Linked DNA regions of Homo sapiens. The protein of the gene in region 4 interacts with the protein of the main gene of each other region in a biochemical or structural test. Each region holds a gene or a part of one and is shown on either strand. Other genes may lie near its edges. The genes, in order: TUBB4A, PML, KAT2B, NR4A1, BNIP3L, MAPK14 and MAP3K1.

Evidence for each region.
Region 1: the proteins of NR4A1 (region 4) and TUBB4A form a complex in vitro, tested with the Homo sapiens proteins (one study listed by BioGRID).
Region 2: the proteins of NR4A1 (region 4) and PML form a complex in vitro, tested with the Homo sapiens proteins (one study listed by BioGRID).
Region 3: the proteins of NR4A1 (region 4) and KAT2B form a complex in vitro, tested with the Homo sapiens proteins (one study listed by BioGRID).
Region 5: the proteins of NR4A1 (region 4) and BNIP3L form a complex in vitro, tested with the Homo sapiens proteins (one study listed by IntAct).
Region 6: the proteins of NR4A1 (region 4) and MAPK14 form a complex in vitro, tested with the Homo sapiens proteins (one study listed by IntAct).
Region 7: of the proteins of NR4A1 (region 4) and MAP3K1, one has a biochemical effect on the other in vitro, tested with the Homo sapiens proteins (one study listed by BioGRID).

What each region holds. Positions count from the first base shown.
Region 1 is NC_000019.10:6,493,819-6,496,564, reverse strand, and holds the end of TUBB4A (tubulin beta-4A chain), read left to right. Parts: intron 1-343; coding exon 344-1,401; 3' UTR 1,402-2,246; downstream 2,247-2,746. UniProt on the Homo sapiens protein: Tubulin is the major constituent of microtubules, a cylinder consisting of laterally associated linear protofilaments composed of alpha- and beta-tubulin heterodimers.
Region 2 is NC_000015.10:74,036,216-74,039,715, reverse strand, and holds part of PML (protein PML), read right to left. Parts: exon of another isoform or gene 3,322-3,500; intron 1-3,321.
Region 3 is NC_000003.12:20,148,446-20,151,674, reverse strand, and holds part of KAT2B (histone acetyltransferase KAT2B), read right to left. Parts: coding exon 3,188-3,229; intron 1-3,187. UniProt on the Homo sapiens protein: Functions as a histone acetyltransferase (HAT) to promote transcriptional activation. Has significant histone acetyltransferase activity with core histones (H3 and H4), and also with nucleosome core particles.
Region 4 is NC_000012.12:52,057,223-52,060,003, forward strand, and holds the end of NR4A1 (nuclear receptor subfamily 4immunitygroup A member 1), read left to right. Parts: coding exon 1-37; intron 38-129; coding exon 130-308; intron 309-1,465; coding exon 1,466-1,722; 3' UTR 1,723-2,281; downstream 2,282-2,781. UniProt on the Homo sapiens protein: Orphan nuclear receptor. Binds the NGFI-B response element (NBRE) 5'-AAAGGTCA-3'. Binds 9-cis-retinoic acid outside of its ligand-binding (NR LBD) domain.
Region 5 is NC_000008.11:26,396,554-26,400,053, forward strand, and holds part of BNIP3L (BCL2/adenovirus E1B 19 kDa protein-interacting protein 3-like), read left to right. Parts: intron 1-3,500.
Region 6 is NC_000006.12:36,072,808-36,076,307, forward strand, and holds part of MAPK14 (mitogen-activated protein kinase 14), read left to right. Parts: intron 1-65; coding exon 66-177; intron 178-883; coding exon 884-913; intron 914-1,241; coding exon 1,242-1,289; intron 1,290-3,040; coding exon 3,041-3,155; intron 3,156-3,500. UniProt on the Homo sapiens protein: Serine/threonine kinase which acts as an essential component of the MAP kinase signal transduction pathway.
Region 7 is NC_000005.10:56,818,549-56,822,048, reverse strand, and holds part of MAP3K1 (mitogen-activated protein kinase kinase kinase 1), read right to left. Parts: intron 1,817-3,500; exon of another isoform or gene 1,304-1,816; coding exon of another isoform or gene 1,233-1,303; intron 1-1,232. UniProt on the Homo sapiens protein: Component of a protein kinase signal transduction cascade. Activates the ERK and JNK kinase pathways by phosphorylation of MAP2K1 and MAP2K4. May phosphorylate the MAPK8/JNK1 kinase.

The DNA.
Region 1 (2,746 bases), on a different chromosome or scaffold from region 4:
CCGCCTCCTGGGTTCACGCCATTCTCCTGCCTCAGCCTCCCGAGTAGCTAGGACTACAGGCGCCCGCCACCACTCCCGGCTAATTTTTTTTGTAATTTTAGTAGAGACGGGGTTTCACCGTGTTAGCCAGGATGGTCTCGATCTCCTGACCTCGTGATCCGCCCACCTCGGCCTCCCAAAGTGCTGGGATTACAGGTGTGAGCCACCGCACCCGGCTATTTGTTATTATTTTTGATAGTTACTAGTATTCAACTACTAGAGGCCCTCCAGGTGGTGGAGAGACAGAGTCAAGGGTTGGGGCTCCCCATAACTGCATGTGTGTCCCCTCCCCTTCCCTCTCTAGGCCAATCCGGAGCCGGCAACAACTGGGCAAAGGGGCACTACACGGAGGGCGCAGAGCTGGTGGACGCTGTCCTGGACGTAGTCCGGAAGGAGGCCGAGAGCTGCGACTGCCTTCAGGGCTTCCAGCTGACCCACTCGCTGGGGGGTGGCACGGGGTCCGGAATGGGCACGCTGCTCATCAGTAAGATCCGCGAGGAGTTCCCAGACCGCATCATGAACACCTTCAGCGTGGTGCCCTCGCCCAAAGTGTCAGACACGGTGGTGGAGCCCTACAACGCCACGCTGTCTGTGCACCAGCTGGTGGAGAATACGGATGAGACCTACTGCATCGACAACGAGGCACTCTACGACATCTGTTTCCGCACCCTCAAGCTGACCACCCCCACCTACGGGGACCTCAACCACCTGGTGTCGGCCACCATGAGCGGGGTCACCACCTGCCTGCGCTTCCCGGGCCAGCTGAACGCCGACCTGCGCAAGCTGGCCGTCAACATGGTTCCCTTTCCTCGCCTGCACTTCTTCATGCCCGGCTTCGCACCCCTGACCAGCCGGGGCAGCCAGCAGTACCGGGCCCTGACGGTGCCCGAGCTCACCCAGCAGATGTTCGATGCCAAGAACATGATGGCGGCGTGCGACCCGCGCCACGGCCGCTACCTGACCGTGGCCGCCGTGTTCCGGGGCCGCATGTCCATGAAGGAGGTGGACGAGCAGATGCTGAGCGTGCAGAGCAAGAACAGCAGCTACTTCGTGGAGTGGATCCCCAACAACGTGAAGACGGCCGTGTGCGACATCCCGCCCCGCGGCCTGAAGATGGCCGCGACCTTCATCGGCAACAGCACGGCCATCCAGGAGCTGTTCAAGCGCATCTCCGAGCAGTTCACGGCCATGTTCCGGCGCAAGGCCTTCTTGCACTGGTACACGGGCGAGGGCATGGACGAGATGGAGTTCACCGAGGCCGAGAGCAACATGAATGACCTGGTATCTGAGTACCAGCAGTACCAGGACGCCACGGCCGAGGAGGGCGAGTTCGAGGAGGAGGCGGAGGAGGAGGTGGCCTAGGCTGCTCCCATCGCTTCCCACCTGTCCCCTCGAGGCTTCTGACCTTTGATCCGCTAGGCCCCCCATCTCTGAACCCTAGAGCCCCGCTTTCCCTCCAAGGCTGACTCCCCGCTGACCCTAACAATACCTTTGGAGCTCGCTTTACCTCTGGCTACTTCATCTCCGACCCTGGCTCCCCTTTGAGCCCTAATTTATCTTTAACCCCCTTGAGCTCTTCCAACCTTGACATTCCCAGGAGGAGCCCCGCTTCACCCCTTCTGACTCTGGAAACCGCACCTTTAACTTTGCAGACCTTCCTTCACCCCTGACTTCTGCTTCACCTTTGACCTCTGCCCCCCATGAATCCCATTTTACCTCTAGACCTATAAGTTCTGGTTTATGTTTGACCCCTCCCTCTGAGCTGCACTTCACCGCTGACCTTGCCTCACCTTTAACCCCCCACCTGAGCCCCAGCTCCTACCTCTGACCCCAACTTCTCTTTGATCTCTGAATCCCCTCTGACTCCAACTTCTCTTTCACCCTCTATGAGTCCCATTTTACTTCTACACCTGCAAGTCCTGGTTTATATTGGACCCCTCCCTCCGAGCTGCAGTTCACCTTTGACCTTGCCTCACCTTTCACCCCCCACCCCCCACAGCGTCAGCTCCTACCTCTGACCCCAGCTTCTCTCTGATTCCCACAGGCCCCATGCATCCTCCCTGCCTCACTCCCCTCAGCCCCTGCCGACCTTAGCTTATCTGGGAGAGAAACAAGGCCTGGTGCCTGTGAGGAAGAGAGGTCACCCCTACCCTCCCTCCCCGCTTCCCTGCCTCACCCTCAATAAATAAATTAATTGTTGTCATGGATGTTTCTGCCGAATCCCTCTTTCCTCTCTTACAGCAAGTGCGGGCTTTTCTCTACAGGATGGAGGAGGGTACCGATGACATCTCATCTCTGGATGGGGGGCGTGCTGGGGAGGGATCAGACGGGCCAGGCTAGGCCACCCACTAACCCTGAGGTTTTGACTAAGCCATTTGCCTTCTCTCAGCCTCGGTCTTCCCACCTGTAAAATGGGATCGTATGTTTTCCCCCAGGATCCCCCCACAACTGTTATAGGAATGGGGTCCCAATCCAGACCCCAAGAGAGGGTTCTTGGATCTCAAGAAAGAATTCAGGGCAAGTCCATAAAGTAAAAGCACGTTTATTAAGAAAGTAAAGGGGTAGGGCACGGTGGCTCACACCTGTAATCCCAACATTGGGAGGCTGAGGCAGGTGGATCACCTGAGGCCAGGAGAGACCAGCCTGGTCAACATGGCGAAATCCCATCTCTACTAAAAATAAAAAAATTCGCAGGGCGTGGTGGTGG
Region 2 (3,500 bases), on a different chromosome or scaffold from region 4:
TTCATAGCTTTAAGAAAAAACTGAGGCCCAGGCTGCACCCAAGACTGATTCGATTAGAATCTCAGGGCGTAGGACCTAGGAATCTGTAGTTGGGAAAACTCCCCAGTGTACAGCCAGCTTGAGAACAATTGTCCTTATCACTGATTCATTCCAGGTTTGCTCATCAGCCAAACACAAGCCAAACTCTGATAGTCAGCATCCAGCCTCTGGAAGATACAGAACATCTGACATTCATGCTTATCAAGAGCCCTCAAGCTCCTGAAGAACTTTCTGAGCACTTAAGCATCAGCTACAGCTGGGATCAGTTTGGCAAGACACATGCATTGCTATCTTTCTGCAGACACAAAACCCCAGCTCTTGCAAAGCCTCAAAGACCCCAGGAATACTGCACATGTTATGAGTGAACTGGACCATAAACTCGGCCAGCCTGTGGCCTCTGCTGCCCTTCTGCCTAGCTCCAGCCTCTTGGCCAGCACCTCCGTTTCATTTTCTCAGATGCACACTCACCAGTGCCACGGCCCCTCCCCTGGATCAGCCATTCCCCACAGGCCTCCCTTCCTCCGCCGTCACCACTGCCACTTCTGCCACAGGCTGCCCCCTCACCTTGGCCCCCTCCTGTTGCTGCTGCCACCAAGGCACCGGAGCCAGTAATCTGTCACAAGAGTGGGTGAAAACACCTATCTTTTCCACTTTGGATCCTAAAGCAGGGGCCCCAGGGCAGGCGCACTGCTGACCCACTCTGGCAGTTTTTAAGCAAAGTCCTCACCCCAGGTACTCCACAACCAGGCCTGGGGGACTCACTGCTCCACCCCATGACTATGCCCTGCTGCCTCTCGCTCCTTCTTGCACAAACAGTCTCTCACTGAATCCCTAGGACACAGGTGAAGCTCAAGGGAGGGGTTCCTAAATGCCCTGATACACTTGGAAAGTAGTAATGTAGCAGACCAGTATTCTGCAACTTTCCTCACTGCAAAGCTGGATATAAGCTGCAGAGCTGGGGAGGATGGGTTAGGTGGGAGCCGGGATCACCTTGGGAATATCACCCCACCCCCTCCAAGCTGGGGAGTAGGAATTTGCAGTGGTGGTGCTGGGTGTACTCTGGGGGCACCAGGGGTCTGGAAAGGGCCCAGAAGTTGGGTGAGAAATGCATAGGGGGGACCTAATTTGTTGGGGTTTTAAAATATATATTTTCTAAAGTTTGGGACTCCTATAACAATTTTTAAAACCTGTGTCTTAAAGCTACATACACAAAAGCAGCGGTCCTCTGGCTCTCTCCCCACGTCTCTAGGCCTGCTCTCTAATGTGAGCTCCTAGGTATTTAATTCATCATCACCTGAAATGTGCTTTTACCCCCTCCCTTAATTCACTGTATAGCCCCTAATGACTCCTTGCTGATAGCTGAGCATTACATACTCCCCGCCCCACCCCCAATATTGCTGGGGTCCCTCTACTTGATTCTCCATGACATCTGGGGACACTGTTGGCACTCCAAACCTGTTCTCCACCTTTCCTTCCCAGGCTTCTGCCTCTACCCAGGGTCAGTGGTAGCTTTAATTTTACCAAGATTATGGGATGGAAAGAAGTGCCCAGATTTCAGAGGAATTTACACCCTAGAAAGACAAGACTCAATAACTGGTTGGATGTGAGGAATAATCAAAAGGGGGGTGCCCTGGGTGGCTATGGGGTCTTGGCTTGTGCAACCGGGCAGAGAGTGGGGCGAGCCAGTGAGACGGGAGGAGAAGGTGCTGAGTTTGAGGTACCTATGGGCATCCATGCGGAGCTGTTGGAAGGTCACTGGCCATGCTGGTCTGGCAGGCAGGTGCGAGTGTTGGGTATCAGCTACCCCTGGGCAGTAACTGAAGTCAGGGGCGTGGCTGAGAGCACCTGGGAGAATACACAGACTGAAAAGAGGAAAGGGCCCAGCAGCAAACCTGCAGGAGCACCACAACCAAGAAAAAACAGAGCCTGCAGAGGAGAGGGAGGAGTGCCCAGAGCTGCATCCGAGCAGGCGATCTTTCCAGGAAAGACCGGGCCCAGCGCCGGTCAAGAATAATAACGACTAAACGCGACACTGCACCTAGAGGCACAGAGGCCACCCTGGTACTGGCGGGGAAGCGCAGGAGGTGGGGTGAAGAAGGGGCAAGGAGGGGGCTGAAGTGTAAACAAGGAGAGCAGAGGAAGGGGAGCCGACAGCTGGAGAGAGAAGTGGGTGGAGTTTTCTGAGATGAGAAAGACCTCATTCAGGGTGTTTAGTTCAGAAGGCAGTGGATACATTAGAAGATGCAAGAGAGATGAGGAGGAGGAGTGAGGCTCCCAGGGGGTCAAGGGCTGGGGCCAGGACACAGGGTGAGTCCTGGAGGCAGGTGGACATCCCTTCCACCCTAACGAGGGCAGGGAAGGGGTGCGATGGGGATCTGTAAATAGCAAGATGTCAACTGTCCCTATGCCATTGGAGAGCTCCTGTTTTCTCCCTGGAGCAGAAGGTGCCGCCATCAGCTGAGGGTGAGGCTGGGACAAGGGCCCAGTGAAGAAAGGCAGGCGGGGGCTGCCCTGCAGAGCAAAAGGACATGCTGGGCGGAGCACCAAGGAGCCCTTAGCAGTCACAGGCAACCACTCATAGTTTTCCCAGGCCTTTCTCCTGCAGATCTCGGTCTCCAGGTGGCAGCACAGAGGCGACAAGCTCCTGAGTCCTTCCAGGATTTTCTGCTGGGCAGGGAGCTGCAATTCTGATGAAAGATGGGATGAAATGGGGAGTGCGCGGGGCTGGAGGGAGGCGAAGGTAGGACTGAGAGCTCAAGGAACAGGAGGCTGCGGTCAGAGTCTGAGAGGACCGGCTGAGGGACCGACAGTGCTCGGTGATGGCAAGGTGCAGGGCACGGCCACGGGGCAGGCAGCTGTCTGGGGGAATGGGGTGACAACCCCTGAGAGGTTAAGGAGTGGCGGGCAGGTGGGTGGAAATAGAAGTCACTCAGGAGGAAGGCAGGACCTGAGCAGGGAGAAGAAATCTGGGAGGTGAATGCTCACGTCTGCCCTCAATGAGGGTGGGCAGGTGGGTGTCTGGGATGAGCTGGGGAGCATGGGGCCCACCCTGAGAGGGACAGAGGATCTTACCAGACGGCCAGGAAGGGGCTGGAACAGTCCAGGAAGCAGGGGGCCTTGACCCTACCTCCCACCTCTGATGCCCATGAGTGTGGGAGGAAGAGGGGACATGGTATCCCCAGAGGAGAACTGAGTTCCAGCATAGGGAAGAGAGAACAGCCTGCAGGGAGGAGCTGGATCCATCGGAGAACGCGATGGTCGTGGAATAAGGGTTCGCAAGGGTGATGGTTCAACAAGTGTTTATTGAGCAGCCACATCTGCCAGGTCTTGGGATAGCCAGTCCCTGTGCTCATGGGCTTAGATCCTGGCAGAGGCCTAGTGGAGAGGCTTGGGGTGGGGGTCGGGGCATGGAAGGCTGTGCTATTGGCCAGGGACTCAGAATACAGGAGAGTGCAAGGGTG
Region 3 (3,229 bases), on a different chromosome or scaffold from region 4:
TGTAGTATTTTACAGGTGAAAACAGTACTCCATCTAAACTGATAAAACTAAAGTAGGGTTTCTTCAATCCTCACTGTCAGGACTAATTTAAGGAATTCTATGCAGATTAGAATAGACGCTAACATTTGTCTATTTATGGTTCCCTGGTTGTCTTGAAGTCTGGCTTTATTGTTAAAAGCTATAATTGTATTAACTATGTGTGGAAAAATAAGTCAAATGGGAAAAAAAAAACCCCACTTCTGACTACCAATATCCCAAATTATAAGTATGTTATAAAATTTCCAGGGGGAAAGAAACCTATAACCAAATACATTGGGATCATCATTTAATAAGGTAAGTAAATGTACGTACAATATCCCCAAATGGGAAGGAATTCATTTGCATCAATATCCTAAATCCACCACAAAAGCATCAAAGAAGAAATGGAAAAAAGCTGCTTCTGCCTATCTCTTGAATAAAGCCTATCTTGGTTAGAGTGTATGTCATCACATCTGTAAATTCAACTTTCAACTTTTCTTTCTTCTCTAAAACAGTTTGGAGAGAGATAAAAATCTAAAAGCGCTAAGAAACACAAAGACTCATCAAATCTCACACTAAATGTCCCATCCAAGTGTGACTGAACAGATCAAAATGTTCTCTCATTTAAAGAAGAAAAAAACAATGAAATTGGCCCTAAGTAAAAGTAGATGTTTACATTCCTTTCACTTTTCCACCTAAATGTCTACCACTTAAGATATGCTGCCCAATATAATATGTATAATGTTTTAAAAGGAAGAAACATGTACCCCCCAAAAAGGGGGAGGGGGAGTAAAAGGATGACACGACACAAAGAAGTTTGTCCAAAAGCTTTTCGAACTTTTTTAGGAGATGGGTAAGAAAAGATGGAGAGAGCCTAAAATGCAGCAGAAACAAAGCAAGAATTATGGCGGTGTCTGGACTTTTCTGAATAACTATAACCAATTCTGAATACTTCCTTTCTATTCTAAAGCTATAGATAGCATTCTTCTTCCTCTGGCCTTCGTAGAGTTTTTTCAATTGACAAAATGAGGTGGGTTAAAAAAGGTGACTAAATATTGGTGGTACCAAATATAGAGACACCATTAAATTATTCAGTTTTCATGTCCTTTCCCCTTAACTTGGGAATTCTGGGTAAGCAGCAAAACCCTGCCTAGCCATCCATGGGTAACAAGAAGTCATGCTTGGGCCAGACTATACAGCTGATGTCCAGTGTGTGACTCCCTAAGTAAAACAGGTTAGATCCCATCCATATGAGAGAAACAGTTTTTCAGAATATGGGGAAAGAAAAGTAATGTTATTAGAAAAATCAAATAAGGAAATCGTGGGAAAATGTAAAATTACTGATTTGTCAATCTTGTCTTCAAATACAAGATAATCTTGGGGACAAGACTAAATATTTTACTCAGCATCTGAACAATACCAAGAAAAAAAATACTGCCCTACTGAAGAACACCATTTATAGCTTTAACTTTGTCCAGCACACATTTCAGCCCATCACTGGCCTTGCTCAATTAGGTCAGTTTCCCCCCTTGTGAGACTCAGCTATGCATACAGGTGGTATCCAACTGGAGAAGTTCACAACCTTCACGGGTGGGACCAAGCAAAACACTTTCAGAAAGCAGGCTGCAAGTAGGCTATGATCGACGAGATCTGCTAGACCTATCGCTGCACGTCATCAGAGTGCATGTGCACAGGGGCTGAAAGGGCCCCAAAGTCACACAGCTTCCCATGGGGGTTTCCCAAAAGAAGCTGAGATGGTCCAGAGGAAGAGGATGCAAAAATCAGTTAATTTATGGTTGGAAATGGACACAAAGAGTTTTAACATATTTTGCACATAGTGGACAATATTGATTCCCAAATCAGCCTTCCATTCAGAATTCTAGACTGAGTCAACCATACCCTTTATTTTCTTGTACTGAAATAAATAGTGGTAAGTCAGAGAGAAGAGAGAAAGAAAAGCATATAGATGTGTGTTCACTTTAAAGGGTGTAGGCTACTGAAATCATTACTACAAATATATAAAATATTCATGTGAAACATTTAAATGCTATAGAAAACACCTGTAAATAACTCAGTTTTCAAGGAGCTAATGCGTCCCTTTCACTCTTCCTTTTCACATTTTTAACACTTCCACAATTTTTTTTTTTTTTTTTTTTTTTTTGAGATACGGTCTCCCTCCAGTGCCCAGGCTGAAGTGCAGTGGTGCAATCACAGCTCACTACAGCCTCAAACTCCCAGGCTCAAGTGATCCTCCAACCTCAGCCTCCCAAGTAGCTGGGGCCTCAGGCGTGTGCCACTGCACCTGGCTAATTTTTTACTTTTTGTAGAGACAGGGTCTCACTACATTACCCAAGCTGGACTTTCACAGTTCTTAGCACCTGGAATAGATTACAGGTAGAAAAGAGACAGAAGACTCTGGCTCTCTCCAAAAATATGGCCACATAGCTGATAAAAAGAAAACATTTCAACTGGTTGTCACCCACACAATGCCAAATTAGTTTAATTTGAGCGACCTCAAATGATTCAATTAATCATTAATTTTAGAGTGGTGTGGGCACAGCACCAAACTGCACAATTCTACATTTCTGAAGACATCCTTTTTTGTTTGATTTTGGATATGAGACAAAGCGTAAAATAAAGAGTATATACAGTGACATTAACAGTACCCATCAAGGGCATGGAAAATCAAGAATTGTGGTAAGTAGAATTTCTCCCTCTGAAAGTACAGCAGTCAAGTACTTTAATCTAACTTCTTTCATTATTATCCTGAATAATTATTCAAAGGAATACCTATTTACGACAGACGCAAAGCATATCAAGAGGATAAGCTGATGTTTTTCTATTTGCACCAAAGAGTTAGAATATAAGCAAAGTTATATCTAAAGTGCCAGCTTTCAAATCTAGTGCTGTCTGCAGTTACCGTGGATTTTCTGCGTCTAGTGTCGTTAAGCTCATGTGGGCTCTAAACGACAGCTGCAGAATGTCTCTAATGAACACAGCCACCCACTTCTCTGCCATCACTGACCCGCCACGGTGCATGGAATCCCACCACCCGTCATACACTTCCTACCCTAAGCAGAGGAGTACAAATCAACCTCAGCAACCATTTGTCCCCCACACCGCCATCCAGAGTTTTAAATCTATACTTAGAAAATGTTAATGGTATTACCCATGGGGAACCTTATAACTTCATAATATCCTGGAGCTTCTG
Region 4 (2,781 bases):
CCTTCCTGGAGCTCTTCATCCTCCGCCTGGCGTACAGGTGAGAGCCACTGACTGTCTGCCCAGCCCCTTTCCCTGATACACCTGCCTGTGAACCACCCTGATCGCTCTTCGTGCCCATCTGCCTGCCAGGTCTAAGCCAGGCGAGGGCAAGCTCATCTTCTGCTCAGGCCTGGTGCTACACCGGCTGCAGTGTGCCCGTGGCTTCGGGGACTGGATTGACAGTATCCTGGCCTTCTCAAGGTCCCTGCACAGCTTGCTTGTCGATGTCCCTGCCTTCGCCTGCCTCTCTGCCCTTGTCCTCATCACCGGTGAGTGACCAGCACCACACCAGGTCCAAGGGAATGGGCGTCAGGGGGTTGACTGGTTCTCAGGAGGGCACTGTCCCAGGGAGTTTGGTGGGCCGGGATCTAGCACTTTCTGGGCCCCTGCACTGCCCCGGGCTCATGCCAGCAGTAAAGTAGGGACCATAGGAATTGCAGATGGGCTCAGCTGCATCCAGCTCTAAAGCGCAAGACAGCCTTTGGTCCCAGACTGTCAGGATCCAGACTGCAGGTGTCATGTATGTGGCCTAGGGTATTGGCTTGTTTTTAAAACCTTCCTGTCAATTATGCTGCATATAGAAAAGTACACAAATGGTAAATTTTCATAAACCGCACTTACCCAACCAGCGCCTTGGTCAAGAAAGAGCACATAACTGCCCCCCAGAACCCATTATTGTGCCCCCTTCCAGTCATTTGCCCTCCCCAAGGGTAACCACTACTTTTTATTTAAATATTTTAAAAATAAGATGGGAATCTCACTATGTTGCCCGAGCTGGTCTCGAACTCCTGGGCTCAAATGATCCTCCTGTCTCAGCCTCCTAAAGTGCTGGGATTACAGGTGTGAGCCACCACGCCTAGCCCTTCACTGTGACTTCTGACAGTGCAGATCAGATTGGTTGTGCCTGTTTTGGACTTTATGTAAATGTAGTTCTGCAGGATGGAATCTGGTGTTGAATGCAGAGGTTTTCAGATTTCTCTGTTTTTTAAAGGAAAGAATCCACCCTCGTTCATTTTTTCACTTAAATTGCACAGGGGACCCAACGATATAGAACACAATCAGAGGTACTCTGGGCTGAGGGAGTGCTGAGTTCTGAGGCTGGGTTTCTCAGAACAGTCTAGATTTTAAAAACCCAATGATCTAGCCAGAAAACGTAGGTTAGGATTTTATTTCCCGTTTGTGACCCTGGGCAAGTCATTAGCCTCCTGGGCCTCGGGTTCTCACTTGGAGTATGAGGATAATGAGGGTTACTGCTTCTCAGACTTGTGACGATGCTTACTAATGGCCAACATGTGAATGCGCTTTTGTGAAGTGCCAGCAGAGCATGAGGGGTGGTCAGGGGCAGCAGTTTTAGGGGCCTGGGGGAGGCTGGGGCTTTGGGGGCCTGGTTCTCAGATGTACAGCTAATCCTGTACCCTTCCCGCAGACCGGCATGGGCTGCAGGAGCCGCGGCGGGTGGAGGAGCTGCAGAACCGCATCGCCAGCTGCCTGAAGGAGCACGTGGCAGCTGTGGCGGGCGAGCCCCAGCCAGCCAGCTGCCTGTCACGTCTGTTGGGCAAACTGCCCGAGCTGCGGACCCTGTGCACCCAGGGCCTGCAGCGCATCTTCTACCTCAAGCTGGAGGACTTGGTGCCCCCTCCACCCATCATTGACAAGATCTTCATGGACACGCTGCCCTTCTGACCCCTGCCTGGGAACACGTGTGCACATGCGCACTCTCATATGCCACCCCATGTGCCTTTAGTCCACGGACCCCCAGAGCACCCCCAAGCCTGGGCTTGAGCTGCAGAATGACTCCACCTTCTCACCTGCTCCAGGAGGTTTGCAGGGAGCTCAAGCCCTTGGGGAGGGGGATGCCTTCATGGGGGTGACCCCACGATTTGTCTTATCCCCCCCAGCCTGGCCCCGGCCTTTATGTTTTTTGTAAGATAAACCGTTTTTAACACATAGCGCCGTGCTGTAAATAAGCCCAGTGCTGCTGTAAATACAGGAAGAAAGAGCTTGAGGTGGGAGCGGGGCTGGGAGGAAGGGATGGGCCCCGCCTTCCTGGGCAGCCTTTCCAGCCTCCTGCTGGCTCTCTCTTCCTACCCTCCTTCCACATGTACATAAACTGTCACTCTAGGAAGAAGACAAATGACAGATTCTGACATTTATATTTGTGTATTTTCCTGGATTTATAGTATGTGACTTTTCTGATTAATATATTTAATATATTGAATAAAAAATAGACATGTAGTTGGAACTGAGATTCAGTCTGTCTCTGATGCCCCCTCCCCACTCCCCCACCAGACACACCCCATCATTACATAAGAGATGGGCTGCTCAAGATGAAACTTGGATGTTACCAGCCTGAGCTGTCAGGCCTCAGTGTACTCATTTGTAAAAGGCGGATAATAATGACACCTGCTTCACGAGGTTGTTATGCAAAGCACTTAGACTAATTTCTAACACGTGGGAAGCCTGCATTAGCTGTGCCTGGCTAGCTGTGCCTGGCTCATTGCTGGGGTCTGCAGTGGCTGACTAGCCCAGGGGTCACTGCAGGGCCCTAGCAATAGACTTAGCCGCAGATCTCAGGGTTGTCATGTTTCCTAAACTGGACATATATTCTCTGATTCTTGATTTCCACATCCATAAAACAAGAATAGACCCAGCCTCACAGAGCTTTTACGGTCAGAGGAGTGTGTGTGTAATGCTTAGCATGGGCTGGGTTTAAGTAAGCCCAAATTGGTAGTAGCTGTTACA
Region 5 (3,500 bases), on a different chromosome or scaffold from region 4:
AAACACAGAGCGCCTCTCCTCCTCCAAAGGAACGCAGTTCCTCACCAGCAACGGAACAAAGCTGGATGGAGAATGATTTTGACGAGCTGAGAGAAGAAGGCTTCAGACGATCAAATTAGAGTGAGCTACGGGAGGACATTCAAACCAAAGGCAAAGAAGTTGAAAACTGAAAAAAATTTAGAAGAATGTATAACTAGAATAACCAATACAGAGAAGTGCTTAAAGGAGCTGATGGAGCTGAAAACCAAGGCTCGAGAACTACGTGAAGAATGCAGAAGCCTCAGGAGCCGATGCGATCAACTGGAAGAAAGGGTATCAGCAATGGAAGATGAAATGAATGAAATGAAGCAAGAAGGGAAGTTTAGAGAAAAAAGAATAAAAAGAAATGAGCAAAGCCTCCAAGAAATATGGGACTATGTGAAAAGACCAAATCTACGTCTGATTGGTGTACCTGAAAGTGATGCGGAGAATGGAACCAAGTTGGAAAACACTCTGCAGGATATTATCCAGGAGAACTTCCCCAATCTAGCAAGGCAGGCCAACGTTCAGATTCAGGAAATACAGAGAACGCCACAAAGATACTCCTCGAGAAGAGCAACTCCAAGACACATAATTGTCAGATTCACCAAAGTTGAAATGAAGGAAAAAATGTTAAGGGCAGCCAGAGAGAAAGGTCGGGTTACCCTCAAAGGGAAGCCCATCAGACTAACAGCGGATCTCTTGGCAGAAACCCTACAAGCCAGAAGAGAGTGGGGGCCAATATTCAACATTCTTAAAGAAAAGAATTTTCAACCCAGAATTTCATATCCAGCCAAACTAAGCTTCATAAGTGAAGGAGAAATAAAATACTTTACAGACAAGCAAATGCTGACCGATTTTGTCACCACCAGGCCTGCCCTAAAAGAGCTCCTGAAGGAAGCGCTAAACATGGAAAGGAACAACCGGTACCAGCTGCTGCAAAATCATGCCAAAATGTAAAGACCATCGAGACTAGGAAGAAACTGCATCAACTAACGAGCAAAATCACCAGCTAACATCATAATGACAGGATCAAATTCACACATAACAATATTAACTTTAAATGTAAGTGGACTAAATTCTGCAATTAAAAGACACAGACTGGCAAATTGGATAAAGAGTCAAGACCCATCAGTGTGCTGTATTCAGGAAACCCATCTCACGTGCAGAGACACACATAGGCTCAAAATAAAAGGATGGAGGAAGATCTACCAAGCAAATGGAAAACAAAAAAAGGCAGGGGTTGCAATCCTAGTCTCTGATAAAACAGACTTTAAACCAACAAAGATCAAAAGAGACAAAGAAGGCCATTACATAATGGTAAAGGGATCAATTCAACAAGAGGAGCTAACTATCCTAAATATATATGCACCCAATACAGGAGCACCCAGATTCATAAAGCAAGTCCTGAGTGACCTACAAAGAGACTTAGACTCCCACACATTAATAATGGGAGACTTTAACACCCCACTGTCAATATTAGACAGATCAACAAGACAGAAAGTCAACAAGGATACCCAGGAATTGAACTCAGCTCTGCACCAAGCAGACCTAATAGACGTCTACAGAACTCTCCACCCCAAATCAACAGAATATACATTTTTTTCAGCACCACACCACACCTATTCCAAAATTGACCACATAGTTGGAAGTAAAGCTCTCCTCAGCAAATGTAAAAGAACAGAAATTATAACAAACTATCTCTCAGACCACAGTGCAATCAAACTAGAACTCAGGATTAAGAATCTCACTCAAAGCCGCTCAACTACATGGAAACTGAACAACCTGCTCCTGAATGACTACTGGGTACATAACGAAATGAAGGCAGAAATAAAGATGTTCTTTGAAACCAACGAGAACAAAGACACAACATACCAGAATCTCTGGGACGCATTCAAAGCAGTGTGTAGAGGGAAATTTATAGCACTAAATGCCCACAAGAGAAAGCAGGAAAGATCCAAAATTGACACCCTAGCATCACAATTAAAAGAACTAGAAAAGCAAGAGCAAACACATTCAAAAGCTAGCAGAAGGCAAGAAATAACTAAAATCAGAGCAGAACTGAAGGAAATAGAGACACAAAAAACCCTTCAAAAAATCAATGAATCCAGGAGCTGGTTTTTTGAAAGGATCAACAAAATTGATAGACCGCTAGCAAGACTAATAAAGAAAAAAAGAGAGAAGAATCAAATAGACAAAAAATGATACTACAAACACCTCTACGCAAATAAACTAGAAAATCTGGAAGAAATGGATACATTCCTCGACACATACACTCTCCCAAGACTAAACCAGGAAGAAGTTGAATCTCTGAATAGACCAATAACAGGAGCTGAAATTGTGGCAATAATCAATAGTTTACCAACCAAGAAGAGTCCAGGACCAGATGGATTCACAGCCGAATTCTACCAGAGGTACAAGGAGGAACTGGTACCATTCCTTCTGAAACTATTCCAATCAATAGAAAAAGAGGGAATCCTCTGTAACTCATTTTATGAGGCCAGCATCATTCTGATACCAAAGCCGGGCAGAGACACAACCAAAAAAGAGAATTTTAGACCAATATCCTTGATGAACATTGATGCAAAAATCCTCAATAAAATACTGGCAAACCGAATCCAGCAGCACATCAAAAAGCTTATCCACCATGATCAAGTGGGCTTCATCCCTGGGATGCAAGGCTGGTTCAATATACACAAATCAATAAATGTAATCCAGCATATAAACAGAGCCAAAGACAAAAACCACATGATTATCTCAATAGATGCAGAAAAAGCCTTTGACAAAATTCAACAACCCTTCATGCTAAAAACTCTCAATAAATTAGGTATTGATGGGACGTATTTCAAAATAATAAGAGCTATCTATGACAAACCCACAGCCAATATCATACTGAATGGGCAAAAACTGGAAGCATTCCCTTTGAAAACTGGCACAAGACAGGGATGCCCTCTCTCACCGCTCCTATTCAACATAGTGTTGGAAGTTCTGGCCAGGGCAATCAGGCAGGAGAAGGAAATAAAGGGTATTCAATTAGGAAAAGAGGAAGTCAAATTGTCCCTGTTTGCAGATGACATGATTGTTTATCTAGAAAACCCCATTTTCTCAGCCCAAAATCTCCTTAAGCTGATAAGCAACTTCAGCAAAGTCTCAGGATACAAAATCAATGTACAAAAATCACAAGCATTCCTATACACCAACAAGAGACAAACAGCCAAATCATGAGTGAACTCCCATTCACAATTGCTTCAAAGAGAATAAAATACCTAGGAATCCAACTTACAAGGGATGTGAAGGACCTCTTCAAGGAGAACTACAAACCACTGCTCAAGGAAATAAAAGAGGATACAAAGAAATGGAAGAACATTCCATGCTCATGGGTAGGAAGAATCAATATCGTGAAAATGGCCATACTGCCCAAGATAATTTACAGATTCAGTGCCATCCCCATCAAGCTACCAATGACTTTCTTCACAGAATTG
Region 6 (3,500 bases), on a different chromosome or scaffold from region 4:
TCTTCTGAAGATAAGAACTTTCTTAGGGGTTCTAGATTGTTATGTAACTTTTCACTAATTTCTAGGTATCTGGTGACCCATCTCATGGGGGCAGATCTGAACAACATTGTGAAATGTCAGAAGCTTACAGATGACCATGTTCAGTTCCTTATCTACCAAATTCTCCGAGGTCTAAAGGTACAGATAATACAAGTAATAATTTTTTAAAATGAATTCTCCCTTTCTCCCCTCCTTTTAGGGCTTAAACAAACAAGTAAACAACTTTTCTAATGGAAAATTCAAACACATAAAATCACAGGTAAAGGTCATATAGTACAGTAAACTGCCATGTTCACTCAGTGACAACAGTTACCGACATATGGCCAATCATGTTTCTTTTGTATTTCCCAAGCCCTGGATTATTTTAAAGCAAGTCTAGACATTATATAATACCATCCATAGATACTTCAGTTTGCATATCTGAAAGATAAGGACTCTTCATTCTTACATCTAAACAATAATTTATTGATGTAATCTAATATCTGGTCAGCGTAATGTTGAGATTTTCAAAAAATCCTCAAGAAAGACTAATTTATTTGTTGGAGGGGCAGATAAACAGTGTTTTAAAATTAAACCCATCTTTGATATTTAGCTGCTTTGAGTCCTTATTGAGCTCCAGAGTGCCAACCAGAAAATAGATTAAAAGCTCAACTGAGTGGAGTCAATGGCTGTGGAAATTATAGTAATGGTAAATGTACACAATACTGATAGTTACTTATGCTGATTTCTAATCTTACTATTAACACTAGCAGTTCTTACTGATTCATGAAAATGTGCAGCAAATATGTTATATAATATGACAATAGAAGGTTGGAGGTAACTTTGACTTTTTTCTCTTTTGCAGTATATACATTCAGCTGACATAATTCACAGGGTATGTATTGTGACTTTGATTACATTATTTTGGGGAAGTGGGGTGAGAGTGGAAGAATGGCATTTAGCCAAGATCCTAATCTAAACTTTAGCCATTGAAATGTTGATTGATTGCAACTTTACTGTAGGTTTAAGCTGATTAAAGAAAGAAGATGTGTAGTTTTTTTCTATGTAAGGCTAACTTGGACTGGATATTGACTGTAGGATGGAGATTGTCTTTTGATAGCTGGATGAAGTCTTTTATGTCTGGATCCTCATTATTACCTGTAGGGGGAGAATTGATCATGCATCATAAAGTTGATCCTGTCTTCCCTGTATTTGCTTCCTAGGACCTAAAACCTAGTAATCTAGCTGTGAATGAAGACTGTGAGCTGAAGGTAAAATGAAGAGACAGTATTCATTGTTTGCTTTACTTTGAGATTATATGTTTGACTAAGCAGGCAGACTTTCTTAGGGAGTAGCTTTGTGAGCCATGACTATCTGAAATTCGTATTATTTTTATTATCAGACTTTGAAATTTAAACCATTTCTGAGTAAGCTAAGTGACATTGAAAGTGGCATCACTTGTTTTTATTTTAACATAAAGTTAAATTATAAATTTGATATATTAGTCATAATAAAGGAGGATAATAGTCAAATATCAAGTAAGTAGGCCCAAAGAGGTGATAACTAGATTAAATACATTTCTAAGAGGAGAAATGGCAGAAACCCACTCACTCAAAATAATTCAAATAAAAAATAAGTGAATTAATTGTTTCTAAATAGCAAGCAGCTCTAGAACTTTTGTTCCATTTCATTTTTTTAACTTGAAAAAATGTCTGTACATTAGAATGCACCATTTCATTTGGCAAAATTATATATCCACTTAACTCACATTTATGATAAAGACCATTTCTTTTTTTTTCCTTTTTTTTGGGATGCAGTCTCACTCTGTTGCCCAGTCTAGAGTGCAGTGGTGTGATCTTGGCTCACTGCAACCTCTGCCTCCCGGGTTCAAGCGATTCTCCTGCCTCAGCCTCCCGAGTAGCTGGGACTACAGGTGCACGCCATCACACCCGGCTAATTTTTGTATTTTTAGTAGAGATGGGATTTCACCATGTTGGCTAGGATGGTGTCGATCTCCTGACCTCGTGATCCACCTGCCTCGGCCTCTCAAAGTGCTGGGATTGCAGGTGTGAGCCATTGCTCCCAGCCAAGAACATTTGGATTACTTTAAAAAGTTTATGGCCAGGCGTGGTGGCTCATGCCTGTAATCCCAGCACTTTGGGAGGCCAAGGCGGGTGGATTATGAGGTCAGGAGATAGAGACCATCTTGGCCAACACGGTGAAACCTCATCTCCACTAAAAATACAAAAATTTAGTTGGGCATGGTGGCGGGCACCTGGAGTCCCAGCTACTTGAGAGGCTGAGGCAGGAGAATGGCGTGAACCTGGGAGGCAGAGCTTGCAGTGCGCCGAGATAGTGCCACTGCACCCCAGCCTGGGCAACAGAGCAAGACTCCGTCTCAAAAAAAAAAAAAAAAAAAAAAAAGTTTATTGTGTCCCTTCCTAGTCAATCCCTACCCCTCCACCCCTAACTCTGGCTCCAGGCAACTATGGATCTGCTTCTAACACTATAGATTAGGTTTATCTTTTCTGGAGTTTCATGTAAATGGAATCATATAGTGTGTATTTTTGTGTGTCTGGCCTTTGCTTGGTGTAATGATTCGGTATTGTTGTGTGTGTCAGTGGTTTCTTCCTTTTTATTGGTAATAGTATTTTGTTTTATGAACATAACAGAATTTTTAAATCTATCCACCTGCTGATGGACATTTGCTTGAGTTTGAGGCTGTGTAAAGCAACTGTGAATGTTTATGTGCAAACCTTTGTATGGACGTAAGTTCTCATTGCACTTGATTAAATACCTGGGAGTGACATTTTTGTTTTGCTTTTTGTAATTTCATTTTAAGTTCTTGCTGTATATTTACCATACATTCTAAGTATGGACCAGGAAATCTCTTTATGAAAGTGCTATTTTGTTCTCCTTTTTAATAAGGCAACAGAGGTTTGTTTGTTGTTGTTGTTTTGTTTTTTTTTCCCTGCCTGTTTCTAAGTCTTAGCAGTTTGTCTGTTCCTCTTCTGCCCTTTAGATTCTGGATTTTGGACTGGCTCGGCACACAGATGATGAAATGACAGGCTACGTGGCCACTAGGTGGTACAGGGCTCCTGAGATCATGCTGAACTGGATGCATTACAACCAGACAGGTATTACTCGCCTTGGTTATTTAGGGCCTTATTTAATTCCATGTTGGATGCATTTGGGATTCTCAGAAATAGAGATGGTGGGAGTGGGAAGAAATGTCTTTTCTTCCCTCAGTGATCCTTTTAAAGCCTGCAAGTAAAAATATTTCACTTCCTCAGATGGGGAAGTGGGGTTTTATACACAGCTTTTAAACCTTGTGATTTAGCAATTGGGTTTTTATTTATTTAGATTTTGAATATATTCTCTGAGTACTTATACCTAAAGACAATTAGTCCATAATTTTAACCCCTCAATGTTACTTGGAAGAATCTACCATTCTACTAATAAGAAACTTGCCCCTTTTTAAA
Region 7 (3,500 bases), on a different chromosome or scaffold from region 4:
ACTCCGTCTCAAAAATAAATAAATAAATACCAAACGATATACAAAAACTCCTAAAAAAAGACAGTTCTTGCCTTCAAAACTCGTCTTAAGCTAGATCATGATTAAAATCTCACTACAGTAAGTTAATCTTCAGATATACTAATTTAACCACTTTTGGAAAATTAATTCATGTTAACATTTCTGGGTACCTAATATTCATGGGTGCCAGACACTAGTCTAGATGCTGGGAGATGGTGCAAAGAATCAGATAAAGTTCCTGGTCTGTTAACAACTGATGTTTAGTATTCAGAATACCATAAGACCAGTTTGAAGATTATGTGTTAACATATAACTTAAATTATTGTTTAGGCAATGAAGAAAAGTAAAGCCAGACACAGTGGCTTGCACCCATAGTTCCAGCTATGTGGAAAGATCACCTGAGCCCAGGAGTTCGATTCCAGCCTGGGCAACATAGTGAGAACCCATTTCTAATTTAAAAATAAAAAAAGAAAAGTAATGATAACATCTGTCAAGAGCAAAGCTTCCACCTACACCCCAGTACTGACCCTGTTCTCACTCCATGTCTATCCATCATTATGCTTACAAGTGATGAACTTAGTTAACGTACTAACTACAGTACTGTGTAGGCTGTCCCATGTGGCTCCAAGCACTTTCTCCAGGCTTCAAGAGGTCTGGTGGCTTAGTAATTCCCAGGTGACAGATGTGTACTTGCAGAATTATACACTTGGTGAGTTTTAACAATTCCCCTTAGTATGCTACAACATCTCCACATCTCGATCAAATTAACATCTGCATCAAACCAGCCTGGTATTCCAAAGGACTCAATCACTAACAATACAGAACTCCCTTCCATACCAAACATAACTCAATCACCAATGACATGCCATAGAGTAAATAAAGACAAGGCTATCTTCTTGATCATCTTATGCCCTAAAGAATATTTTATATTTCTCCATGTTGTTTTCGTAACTAGTAGAGTTGCTGTTACTAATAATAAAGACAGAATTTCAGAACTAGCAGTAGCAGATGTTGAATTTCTTGCTCCCCGTATCTCCTTTTTAATTTTCCCTTGGAAGAAAAAAAAACATGCCTGAACATGCAGTGTTGTATATATTCTTATCAGAAAATAGGCAGAAATAGTTTGAAACTAATATGTTGTATCCCCTCTGTATCCCCATCTCTCTTATAGCACTTAACACGGTATTGTGAAACATGTTCATACTACAACCTACCGACAGAAACAGCTTGTGCACTCATGATCTTTTTCTCCACCACTCAAGACCACCACCTTGCAGAAGTTCATAAATGTTGAATGGATGAAATCTAAAACAATAACAAAGGGGTAGGGTCTAGCAATAGTAAAAGTTTCTCTTCCTGTGTGATTACCATGAATGAACCATATTAATTTCAGCTTATCTCCTTTCACTTATGATTTAATACAGCACAAATCAATAAATCTAAGAAACATTCAACACTAATGACTAACCCTCTTTGGCTGACATGATAGGGTGATCCAAATACAGTTTACTTGTATTACATATACAAGGCCAGGTTACAGAAACATACCTATTATATACATTAACAGGCAAACTTAGCACAGGGTAGAGACCTAGCTCATGGTCTATTAGAATGCCTGCAAAACAAATTTCTCCTTAAAAATAATCAATTAATTTGATTATTAATTTGAAAAAAGAAAATGGAAGAAGCAGAGTAGTGGAAAGAAATGGACTGTGGAGTCAGTCTGACTTGGGATTGAATCCTAGCTGTCTTCTAGTTGTGTAATCATGAGGTTTTACCATCTCAGATGAGTTTGCACCTACAGAAAACAGAAATTACACTATCTTAGGGGGCTGCAGTGATGATCAAATGAGATTATATATAAACATATATATAATACATATAATAGATATCATACACACACACAGAAGGCAAAAGAGTTGATTATGTAAAAGGTATCTAGGCATATCTATATGCTCAATGAGTATGTTTTAAGCCACAGATAAAATCCTAATATATTTTTGCAAACTGAAAAGAGTATCTGACTAATCTCATGCTTTGCAATGAACCATTTACTAATTCCGGCCCTGATTATTTCTTTCATGATTAAACATGTTCTTAAATAATTTCTTAAAGACAACTTTGGGTTACTCCTAATCTTACACATTTCCTCACATTAATAGTCTACCATTTACATGTTTAAGTTGCTTTAGCTTTTAACTTAGGATATAGAAAGAGGCAAGGACTAAGGAAAACAACCAAGTCTATACTTGATATATTTGATAGAAGCAAAGAATTCCAAGATTAGAGGTGTAATATACACGCAGTTCCTAAGCAGCCTCTAGAGACTACTACTTTTCCATGACACATTTTCCCATCGCCTTCTGTGTAACAGACAGCCCTCAACCCAAGAAGATGACTGGAGTACAAAATGCAAAAGAGGTGCTTTCTACCTGAGAGCATTTCTGAATGCCCCATATTTTTCCTCATGGTAATCCATTCCCCATTAACTACCTTGCCACCCCCTCATTTCTTCCTTTGGGATGCACACAGCCAGTGTCAAGGACTGATTAGCCGACTCAGCCTAGGCAAGCTGTAGCTGGTTTTTTTTTTGCTCTTGTTGAAAGCAAAAAAACACTCCTTTCTTCCCACATTTTGAAATCTGCAAGTTGACAAGTCAGTGGCCATTTCTAAAATATGCAACATATTATGCTCGAGGTGCTATGGAAGTTGTAAATGAATATCAATGAACAGGGCTACTTCCTGTTTTTCGTATCTAACAAAATGGAGTTTTAGTGCATTGGAAATCGTATATTAAGGAATGTTGGTTAACCAGTCACTCTTGCCAAAATCAGATATGAAAAGAAAATAAAAGTTGGCAACAATTCTAGCTCTTATATTTCTCTTCCAGAATTATATTAAGGTTCATCTTTGAAGAATGCATTAATTTTCTTATCTGATTTAAAATGAAACTGACACCATTCTTAACTAAAAACTTACAAATTCACGGAAGACTAACTTATGTGACTACCTTTATTTTTATAAAGTCACCCACTTAATATTTTAAGAGTAATTTTTAGGTAATAATGCTCTTATACCTCCTCTTTAGTAAAAGGTCACTAAATCATATTTTTAGCCTAATAGCTTTAAAAAGGAAGTGAAATCTGAGGGCTATATGAGGATATAAAAGCAGCCTGTGAAATACCTTTAGTTTTAAACAAAAACTAACATTAACAAGTACAGCATATCTTGTTCTTTCACGGGGCCAGCAAATTGATAGTTTGGTTTTTTAAGTTACAAAAATAGGATGGGGTAATTATATCTACCAAACTCACAATAGGCTGTTCAATGGAGAGTAACACTGTAATTTTTCTTCAAAGACAGTAAATAGGAAGAAAAAGCCCCTAAATTCTGTAATATAAGGAAAAATTCCAAACCCTTGGGCGCCACTTACAGGCACTTTCACTGATTTCAGCTATCACCCTGAAAAAGAGGGACAAACT